2 separate regions of the Homo sapiens genome follow, and region 1 is linked to region 2. The links come from fine-mapping of genetic effects on gene expression. A gene starts in region 2. The other region holds a variant in brackets. All regions are shown on one strand. Distances are between the middles of the regions.

Region 1 (5,521 bases), 85 kb before region 2:
AAGTTAGATTCATCTTCCCATGCCACTTCTACCCTGCTAAAAGTTTAGCTACTCCTAAGGTCTTTCTTAGTGCACATAAAAACAAACATACATATATTGATCTGTGTATATGCCAGTGTATATTGTCTCTTTGAATAAAAAGTGAGTCATATTGTGATATATTTTATTATACTATATATTGTGATTTATTTTTTCCACTCAGTATTTTACCTGTTGCTCATGATTCCCCTGCTGATTGTAAGTTTGTCTCCAGTTTTTCATTATTATTACATTAGCAAACATCCTTCTACATAGGTTCTTGTGTCCTTGTATGTATTATGTATGAGTATTTCTGAAGGACAGATTCCTAAAAATGGAATTACCTAGTCAAAAGGCATAGCCATTTTAAGTTTTCATATGTAATGTCAAATTGCCTTCCGGAAAGATAGTGTAAGGTTACCTTCCTACCAAGTGTATATGAGCACTGTTTTTCCCACATGTATTTACTGATACCAGATATCATCAATCTCTCAATATATACCAACTTAATTTTTTAATGTACTGTATACTTCATATAAATTAGCTTTTATTTTTATCAAAGTAATACATGCACTTGATAGTACAATAATTAAACAATGCTAAAAGTATTCCAAAAAAAATGGTCCTTGTCCCAATTCAGCTCTGATGAGACAACTGCTTTCATTCTTTTAGCTTTCTCATCTAGTATCTATCTCTCTAATTCTAAAGCTTAGGCTTATATTATTTATTTAGTATATGAATTTTAGACATTAGTGACTTTATAGTGGACAGGGAGTTAGAACATACACCCAAATATAAAGCAAGGTTTACCTACCTACAATCATTCCATCTCCCTACATTCAAGACCTTAGTCATCTAATATGATTTGCAGTTTTTTGGGGTTTTGTTTTGTTGTTTTGTTTTTTTTTGAGACAGAGTCTCACTCTGTCGCCCAGACTGGAGTGCAGTAGCTCAATCTTGGCTCTCTGCAACCTTCGCCTCCCGGGTTCAAGTGATTCTTCTGCCTCAGCCTCCCTGGTAGCTGGACTACAGGTGCCACCACCACACATGGCTGATTTTTGTATTTTTAGTAGAGATGGGGTTTTACCATATTGGCCAGGCTGGTCTGGAACTCCTGGTGGATTACTCCTCAAGTAATCCACCCACCCTTGGTCTCCCAAAGTGCTAGGATTACAGGTGTGAGCCACTGCACCTGGCCTCGGTTTTATTTTGAAGAGCAAAATGTTCATGAAGGCACGTTACCTGAAACATATTTATTTGATGCTTGTTTTGTATGCTTACAGAGGCTAGCTGACAGAACCAGTATTGGGGAGGGGGGAGAAAGAAGGTTAAAATTTAAAACGTTTTAAGATAGTCCCATGATTCATATTATTAGTGTTCATGGTGGTTATATGATCTTGGGCAAGTTGCTTAGCCTATTTGGGCCACTGCTTCCTCCTGTAAAATGAGAGTGACACTCATAAGGTTTAAATGCGCTGCTACAGATTTAAGTGCTGAATATGCCTGACACATACTAAGCATATTACAAATATTATAATAATAACCAAATCAGATCAGTAACAAAAATAGTCCAACATGGTTGGGTGCAGTGGCTCATGCCTGTAATCCCAACACTTTGGGAGGCCGAAGTGGGCCAATCACTTGAGGCCAGGAGTTCGAGATCAGCCTGGCCAACATGGCGAAACCCTGTCTCTACCAAAAATACAAAAATTACCCAGGTGTTGTGGCACACACTGTAATCCCAGCTTCTCGGGAGACTGAGGCATGAGAATCGCTTGAACCTGGGAGGCAGAGGTTACAATAAGCCAAGATCATGCCACTGCACTGCAGCTTGAATGACAGAGCAAGTCCAATATTAGGTTATTGTAGAATTTACAAATAAACTCCTATAGGACGAAATGTGTTTAAGAGTTCAACTCACAAATTTAGTTTATTTCTCTGCCTATAAATAGAGATTTGTAGATTCTTATAGGTAGAGAAATAAACCAAATTCCAACTGCTCCTTATGATCATTCCTCTAGGTGTTAAGAGTGAGAGAGGGAAGGCTTGACAAATTTACTGAAAGAGGTATGGGAGTGTGAAAGCTTTAGACAAGGTACAAAGATCCACTCTCAGAAAGAGAAAATCTGAAAAAAGCTCCAAAACATTGATCATAGGTTTGGAGTTTGATAGTTCACAGCTCTATGTATGGAGAAGAGCTTAAAGGTAAGCAGTACCAGAATTGGTAGCTTTAAATTATAAGCATTGCCTCATAAGGGAAACATGAAGACTTGGAGACATGTCAGTGAAGACTTGGAAACATGGCAGTGAAGAAGAAGAAAGAAGAAAAAATTCTTCAGGAAAAGAAAAAAACTGAACTTAGAGAAGAGGGTGTT[C/G]TTGAAGTAGGAGCTCTGCCTATGAAATGAACAGAAATAGAAAAGAGCAGGCCACATCCATACAGAACTGTAAGAAAAAACAAACAGGAAATGTGAATCAGCATTTCAACTGATGAAAATCTACCCCCATCAAAAAAAGCAGGAAAAAATTGACACAATGCTCCAAGTGAAATTAAACATCCTCAAACCAATGTTTGGAGATTTGAAAAATAAAATTAAGAAATATTCTGAAACAAATACAAAGAACAAAAAGCATTAAGAAATGAACACAAAGTAGATTAAACAGAAAAATAGAAGATAAAATCATAACCAATAATGAAGTTTTAACATTCCCACATTTCAAATTCAAATTTAATAAAAAGTCTTGAAGAAAAGCAGGAAAACAGGATAATTGAGATGAGATTTTTGTTTTGAAAATTGACCAAGTTGAAATGGGAGATGGATCCAAAGTCTACTGTATATAATTGGTGTCCTTCAAGAAGAGAAAATATTTAAAACTATAATCCAAGAAAACTTTCTGGAAGTGAAAAGAGATCTGAATCTATACCACAGAAGTTCATACCAGAAGGCACACTCAAAGATATTTCCTAGTAAAGCTGTATGACTGTAAAGATGCAAAGAATTCTCAGGGTCTCCAGGCAAAGACGTGACATAGAGGCAAGAGAATTAGACCAGTGTCAGATTTCTCAAAAGCAACATAACAAAGCAAGACAGTGGAGCAGCATGAGGAAAGTGACTGCTAGCCAAGGATTTTATATCCAGCTAACTGTTGTCCAGGTATTAGGGCTGCAGAACAACAGTTTGAACATGCAGGAACTCAGGGAATACTGTACTCGTTTACCCCTCCTGAGGACACTCGAAAAGGATGACTTTCATCTAAAAGATATTTGGGACATTTCCTACAAAAAGACTGTGACAATAAGTATTTCAGATATCTTTTTGAACTAAGATTAAAACCAATAGTAGGGACCTAGAGAATAGTACATAAACATTATACATTCTGACAAAGCAGAAAGAATGCAACTAAAATATAATGGGATGGAAAATAAAAGGAAAAACTAAGGCCATGTGTGGTGGCTCACACCTGTAATCCCAGCACTTTGGGAGGCTTAGGTGGGTGGATTACTTGAGCCCAGGACTTCTAGACCAGCCTGGGCAACATAGTGAGACCCAGTCTCTACAAAAAAAAAAAAAAAAGTGTTTAATTAGCCAGGCATGGTGGCTCATGCCTGTAGTCCCAACTACTCAGGAGGCTGAAGTAGGAGGATCATTTGAGCCCAGGAGGTCAAGGCTGCAGAGAGCTGTGTTTGCCTAACTGCACTCCAGCCTGGGCAACAGAATGAGACCCTGTCTAGAACTGTTCTTTTTCAGAACTAGAATAAGAATAATTACTGTAATTGAAGTAATATGAGGGAGTCAGAGGCTACCATCTAAAACTGAAAGACCAAATAGAAAAGATTAGGTAAGAAAAAAAATACAGTGTACTGTAAAAGCTATTAATATAAAGGTAAGCGTGACGAAGACTTTCCAAAATACTGAGAGAAATTTTTAAAGGGACAAAGAAAACCATGATGGAACAGAAAAAAAAGTATACAGTACATAATGCATACCCTAATGATAAAATATGTGGAGAATTGAGAGCAAACATAAAGGCCAGGACAAATATGTACCAGGCAAATAGAAACCCCAAGAATACAAGACTGAAAATGCTGATAGCAAAGTAGAATTCAAACCAAAAAAAGCATTAAATCAGACAAAAGAGAACAGTTTATAATGCTAAAAACCATGATTCACAACAAAGAATTCACAGTTAAATATGTACCACATAACACAGCAACAATCTGTATAAAGCAAAATCTATATGAAGTATAAGAAGAAATAAAAAACTAAAATTAGGGGACTTTGACACTTAGCACAAGATGTAGTGGGTAAAAAAGGATATAAAAGATCTAAATAATATAATGTGAATCTTCAAGTATATCCCTAATAATCAAGAATATACTGCTTCCCCCCACCCCCAACTCTGTCTCCCAGGCTGCAGTACAGTGGCATGATCACGGCTCACTGCAGCCTTGACCTCCCTGCCTCAGGTGATCCTCCCACCTCAGCCTCCCAAGTAGCTGAGACCACAGGTGCACACCACCATGCCCAGCTAATTTTTTTTTTTTTTTTGCTTATTGTAGAGACGAAGTCTCGCCATGTTGCCCAGGCTAGTCTCAAACTCTTGGGCTCAAGCAGTCTTCCTGCCTTGGCCTCCCATAGTGCTGGGATTATAGGTGTGAGCCACCATGCGGGGCCAGAGAGTATGTTCTTTTTAAACACAGAATATTCACAAAAAATTGTCAATCTATTAGAAAAACATTAGTAGGTCCCATACAAGAAAACAAAAACAAATTCAAAAAGCAAAAGGACATTGCACTTCCGTCTTGAAGTTAAGAAACCTTGTATTATGTATTCACAGAAAACCTTGTACAAGAATTTTCGTGGCAGCTTTATTCATAGTAAAATCTGGATGAAGAAAGGGTAAGCTGATACATTGACGAGTATTACTCAGCAATAAAAAGAAACCATTTATACATGTAACATGAATGAATCTCAGAAACACTATGCTGACTGGAAGAAATTAGACACAAAAATATGCATACGATTTTATGCCATTTATATAAAATCTTAAATATATACAAAATTTAGCCAAAGCTAATAGAACTCAGGACTGGGGAGAGATTGAGTGGGAAAGGACAGGAAGGAGCTTTCTAGAGTGACAGAAAAGTCCTATATTTTGATAAGTGTTCAACAGTATGCCTTAATTTTTAAAAGTTTAATGGGTAAAAGGGAAACACAAATTGCAAAGTTTCTGGAAAATGATGATAAGAAAAGTACTACATAATACTACATACCAGAATCTGTGGAATACATTTAAAGCAGTGAGCAGAGGAAAATTCATAGCCCTAAACACTTACATAAATGAAAATAAATTCCCAATTCAGAAATGAACAAAGTAAGCCAAAAGCACAAGGAAGGAAATAAAGATAAAAGTAGAAGTTAATGAGTTAACAGAAGAACTATACGTCTAGTTGATGAACCAATCTTGGACCCTTGAGGGAAGAGTCACATAATAGATGAATCAC
Region 2 (5,000 bases):
CCTCAGCCTCCCAAGTAGCTGAGATTACAGCCGTGCACCACCACACCCAGCTAACATCCTTCCCATTTCTAAGGTCTGATTTGCTTTCTCCTCCCAAGCTCCTAGTTGCTCAGTTAAGTAACTTCAGCAGGTTCCATTCATAAAATAAAATTTAGATTAGCTGAGGGAGATGTCTAACAAAGAACACTGAGCACTTTTTCCTCATTTTCTCTCATTCCCCACGAGCACTCACCATGGCCACAACCGGCCCTGAGTTCATGTACTTCACCAGCCCAGGGAAGAATGGTCGGTCTTTCAGGTCAATGTAGTGCTGCTTCAGGTGTTCTTCAGAGGCCTGGCATTGGAGAGGAGGCACCAGTTAGGAGCTAAGCTGGAAAGACTCCAACCCATCCTCTGAACCTCCCATTAGCAAGTCCGGTTTTATATTCTAGCCCACGTTCCTAAGTGGTGTGTGGAAATATATATATATATACACACATATACACACACATAAATATTTTTTAAATCCCATCCAAACCATGAAACTAATGCCATTTTAACAGAAAGACTGTTCTTTTTTTGGTGTGTTGTTTTGGTTTGTTTTAGGAGACAGGGTCTCACTATCATCACCCAGGCTGGAATGCAGTGGCACAATGATGGCTCACTGCAGCCTCAACTTCCAGGGCTCAAGTGATTTTCCTACCTCAGCCTCCCAAGTAGCTGGAACTACAGATGCACTCAACCATGCCCAATTAATTTTTATTTATTTATTTATTTATTTGTAGAGACAGGGGCTTGCTATGTGGCTCAGGCTGATCTCCAACTCCTGGGCTCCACCCACCTCGGCCTCCCAAATTGCTGGGATTATAGGCGTGAGCCCCGCGCCTGGCCAAGACTGTTCTAATCGTAAAGACACCCTCATACCGTCAATGACATTAGGGGTTTTGTAAGCCTAAAAAGTAGGTGGTTTGAGGATCTAGATTTAGGGAATTAAATTTTGGCTGCAACTGAAGTACATATGTCAGGTCATCTGCCTGGCAGAGGTCATGTTAAACTCCCCTGGGCTACTCACAATGCCCTTTTAAATATTTCAGATAATAACTGAGAACATTCTCTTCACCGATGAGCCTGGTTGAATTTCAGTACTTAGATTCTTACCCGTAAGTGTAGGGATTCAGATCTGTGCCCCAAATTTAATGTGGAAAATACACTCACTACCCTATGCTAAAGGAGGAGCACCGCACTGGAACTCGGAGTTTCAGACTAAAGCAAAGGAGATTCCAAGCCTCCATTCTGTGCCTAGGTGGACCCGAGTGGGCAGGCGCAGGGGGTCTGGGGCCCGGGGTTTTTCCGCTCCCTGCTGCCCCCCTGCGGCGGGTGGGCAGGTAGCGGCCCGCGGGAAGGAACCCAAACCCGGAGGGCGAGTCACGCTACCAGCGCTTCACCTTCCCAAGGGCGTCTGTCCCCACCACCCCGGGAAAGGGTCGGCGGGCCCAAGCCGCCGTGGGCGGGGGCAGAGGGCAAAGGGATTTCGCGGCAGCGAAATGAACTCGGAAAGCAGACGCGGACAAACCGCCGCCGGGAGGGAAAAACACCCGCGAGCCGGCTGCAGCGGGGAAGGGGAGACGGGGGCGAGTTACCCGGAGGAACTTCATGGCCACGAGGCGGAATCCCTTCTGCTCGAAGCGCTTGATGATCTCGCCCACCAGGCCGCGCTGCACGCCGTCCGGCTTGATGGCGATGAAGGTGCGCTCCAGGTTGGCCATGGTCCTGCGGGGCGAGAGGTGCGGTCAGGGCCCGGGCGCAGGCTCTGGCGGGGCCCGCGGAGGCCACGTGGGCGCCGCCGGTCCCTCCTCCCCCACCACGCGCGGCCGCGGGGACACGTGGCTTCCCGGCCGCTTCCGCCCCGCGCAGGGCCGGCGTCCCTCTGCGGAGCCCGAAGGCCCGCGGGGCGCAAGCTGCAAGGGAATCTCCCGCTCCGACGCCGCGCGGGACCTGCGGGAAATCGGGGGGCGCCCACAGACCGGGCCCACCTGCGGCAGCGCAAGCGGAAGAGGGAACGGGAGGAGTCGCCAGGGGATGCGCCCCCACCGCCTTACCGGGAAGCTGGAGGGGCCGGGCGGCGGCGCTGCGCTGGGAGAGCAGAGAGCTGGTGCGACCACCACACCCGGGAGCCGGCGGCGGAGGAGGGGCGCAGGGCGGAGCGCGGGGTGGCCACACCCCGGAGGGCCCAGCCGCCCAACCCGCAGGAACGCCCCACCCGCCCGGCCCGACGCGGCCGGAGAACAGTGTCCACGCCCAGCCGGGGCGCGCCCTCGCCAGGCAGAGATCGAGACGGATCCAGAGACAGGAAGTGATTCCTTCTCCACCTGGACGTCCTATGAGTTCAACTACGCACGTCCCAAATCCCACTCCTCACCTCTCAGTACTTCCCGTGACCCCAAAAGCTCCTACACACACACACACACACACACACACACAGAACCTGCTCCTGTGCTCGAGTTCTCTACCCCGGTCAAGGCCATCTGCTGCTTTCACCATCCGCCCGAGCACCGGCATTAACCTTGACTTGGCTCTCCCTCCCCGTCGTGCACCCACGGTCCTTATCCTCCCTACCTCTGAAATCCAGCCTTCCCTCCCCTCTGCTTGAGCCCTGGTTAAGCCTCGGCCTCCCAAGGGGCCTCGATCTCACCTCTCCGCGCAAACCGGGAGCTTTGCTCAGCACCTCAAACGGCCATCTGGTCCTGCCTCTGCCCTGCCTTGATGACTCCCCCGCCTACAGGATGGCGTTCAGACTCCTTAGCGGGATGCTCTTCTCGCAGGATGCCCTGCTCCCTGGCTGCCGCCTCCCCACCTACATTTCCAGCCCCAATCAGCCGCCCCACTCCCACCCTGACATGGGGATCCCTGCCCACCTGGCACTAAAGTGCGGTCGAGTTTTCCAGTTCACCCTGAGGTGCGCCCCTGGACCCTGAGGAAAGTCTAGACCCTGTCATAGAGATTAGGCCTGTCATCGACCTGTAGACACTTCCTACTTGCAGTGTCCCTGGCAAACAAGCTCCCTTTGGTGATGCCCAGCTTCCCTGGGGCGGTCACAAGCCCCTCCTCTCGGCGCCTGCAGCACTGACTGACAGCCGCACAGCAGTGGTACTGCCCTGAGATGGTGAGAGCCCGCTTGCTTCCCCTCAGGACTCTGAGCTGACCACAGCAATCATGCCATCACCCGAGTGCCCCTAGCACTGCGCTGATCACCTGTCACTGGCCAGATGGATGACAATCTGGCCTCTGTTATACCTTATCGGCTTTCCAAACTTCTAGTTACAGAGCATTAGCCCACCACACATTGACAATGACTGTCATGTGCCCTCATCTGGGGGCACTGTTATTTTTTGGCTTCGATCTGAAACACACTCTCATTTGGATTACCAAATGTCAACTGTGAAAACAGGTCTCGAAATTGCACGGACTTTTCTCTGTCCAGGGGAGAGCTATCTGCTCCCCTTGGTCAGGTCACTGATGGCTACTCAGGGTACAGTCAGGACCACCCCTCTGCTTTCACCTCTTCTTTCCTTCCTGGGAAGACTGTCCTTAACTGGGGAGGCTGTAACCCTCCAGCTTCACTACACACATGTTCATTCCCCCAAGTCCTGGTATGCTCATCTCACGCCCCAAAACAAACAGGCCACGCTTTGTGTAAAAGTATTAATAGAAATTCAGGCTGGATGCGGTAGCTCACGCCTGTAATCCCAGCACTTTGAGAGGCCGAGGCGGGTGGATCACGAGGTCAGGAGTTCGAGACAAGCCTGACCAACGTGGTGAAACCCCGTCCCCAAGAAAAATACAAAAATTAGCCGGGCGTAGTGGCGCATGCCTGTAATCCCAGCTACTCAGGAGGCTGAGGCAGGAGAATCGCTTGAACCCCGGAAGCAGAGGTTGCAGTGAGCTGAGATCGTGCCACTGCACTCCAGCCTGGGCAACAGATTGAGATTCCATCTCAAAAATTAAAAAAAAAAAAAAAGGGGGCCAGGTGCGGTGGCTCACACCTGTAATCCCAGCACTTTGGGAGGCCAAGGCAGGCAGATCACGAGGTCAGGAGATCGAGACCATCCTGGCTAACACAGTGAAACCCAATGTCTACTAAAAATACAAAAAAATTAGCTGGGCATGGTGGCGGGCACCTGTAGTCCCAGCTACTCAGGAGGCTGAGGCAGGAGAATGGCGTGAACCCGGGAGGCAGAGCTTGCAGTGAGCCGAGATTGCACCACTGCATTCCCGCCTGGGTGACAGAGCAAGACTCTGTCTCAAAAAAAAAAAAAAAAAAAAAAACTAAATTAAAAAAAAAAATTCATCTCGCCATCATCTGTCTGTAAAGGCAGCCCACCCCAACTACCCTCTTCTCCCCCATCCTGAGAAGTCTCTTCCCCTCTATTGCCTCTACCGAAGCCAGATGAAAAGGAAAGATAAGAAAAACCCTCAGGTGGCCAGTCGCAGTGGCTCACACCTGTAATCCCAGCACTTTGGGAGCCTGAGGCAGGTGGATCATCTGAGGTGAGAAGTTCGAGACCAGCCTGGCCAACATGGTGAAAACCTGTCTCTACTAAAAATACAAAAAATAGCCGGGAGTGGTGGCACACACCTGTAATCCCAGCTACTCAGGAGGCTGAGACAGGAGAATCGCTTGAACCCGGGAGGCGGAGGTTGCAGTTAGCCGAGATCGCACCATTATACTCCAGCCTGGGCGACAAGAGCGAGACTTTGTCTCAAAAAAAAAAGGAAAAAGAAAAAAGAAAAACCCTCAGGGTGGGCGCAGTGGCTCACGCCTATAATCTCAGCACTTTGGGAGGCCCAGGCAGGCAGATCGCTTGAGCCCAGCAGTTGGAGACCAGCCTGGGAAACATGATGAAACCCCATCTCTACAGAAAATACAAAAATTAGTTGGGCGTGGTGGCACGTGCCTGTAGCCCCAGTTACTCAGGAGGCTAAGATAGGAGATCACTTGGGCCCAGAGAGGTCGAGGCTGC

The links. PIP is the estimated chance that this variant, and not a neighbour inherited with it, causes the effect. A credible set is the group of variants that fine-mapping cannot tell apart.
Region 1: its variant is the best candidate, but not a certain one, in a credible set for the expression of NME2 in whole blood (INTERVAL, PIP 0.70).

The regions. Positions count from the first base shown.
Region 1 is chr17:51,248,139-51,253,659 of GRCh38, reverse strand. All of the region lies in intron 2 of MBTD1 (mbt domain containing 1), which reads left to right. Among named protein-coding and RNA genes, the nearest start is that of MBTD1, 9.2 kb to the left of the region's middle. The variant C/G (reference allele first, on the strand shown) is at 2,394.
Region 2 is chr17:51,163,576-51,168,575 of GRCh38, reverse strand. It overlaps NME2 (NME/NM23 nucleoside diphosphate kinase 2), which reads right to left and starts at 2,165. Exons shown (of 5, transcript NM_002512.4): 1 at 2,079-2,165; 2 at 1,620-1,749; 3 at 233-334. The coding sequence starts at 1,745. It overlaps NME1-NME2 (NME1-NME2 readthrough), which reads right to left. Exons shown (of 9, transcript NR_037149.2): 6 at 1,620-1,749; 7 at 233-334. RefSeq lists silencers at 1,235-1,434, 1,695-2,324 and an enhancer at 1,604-2,212.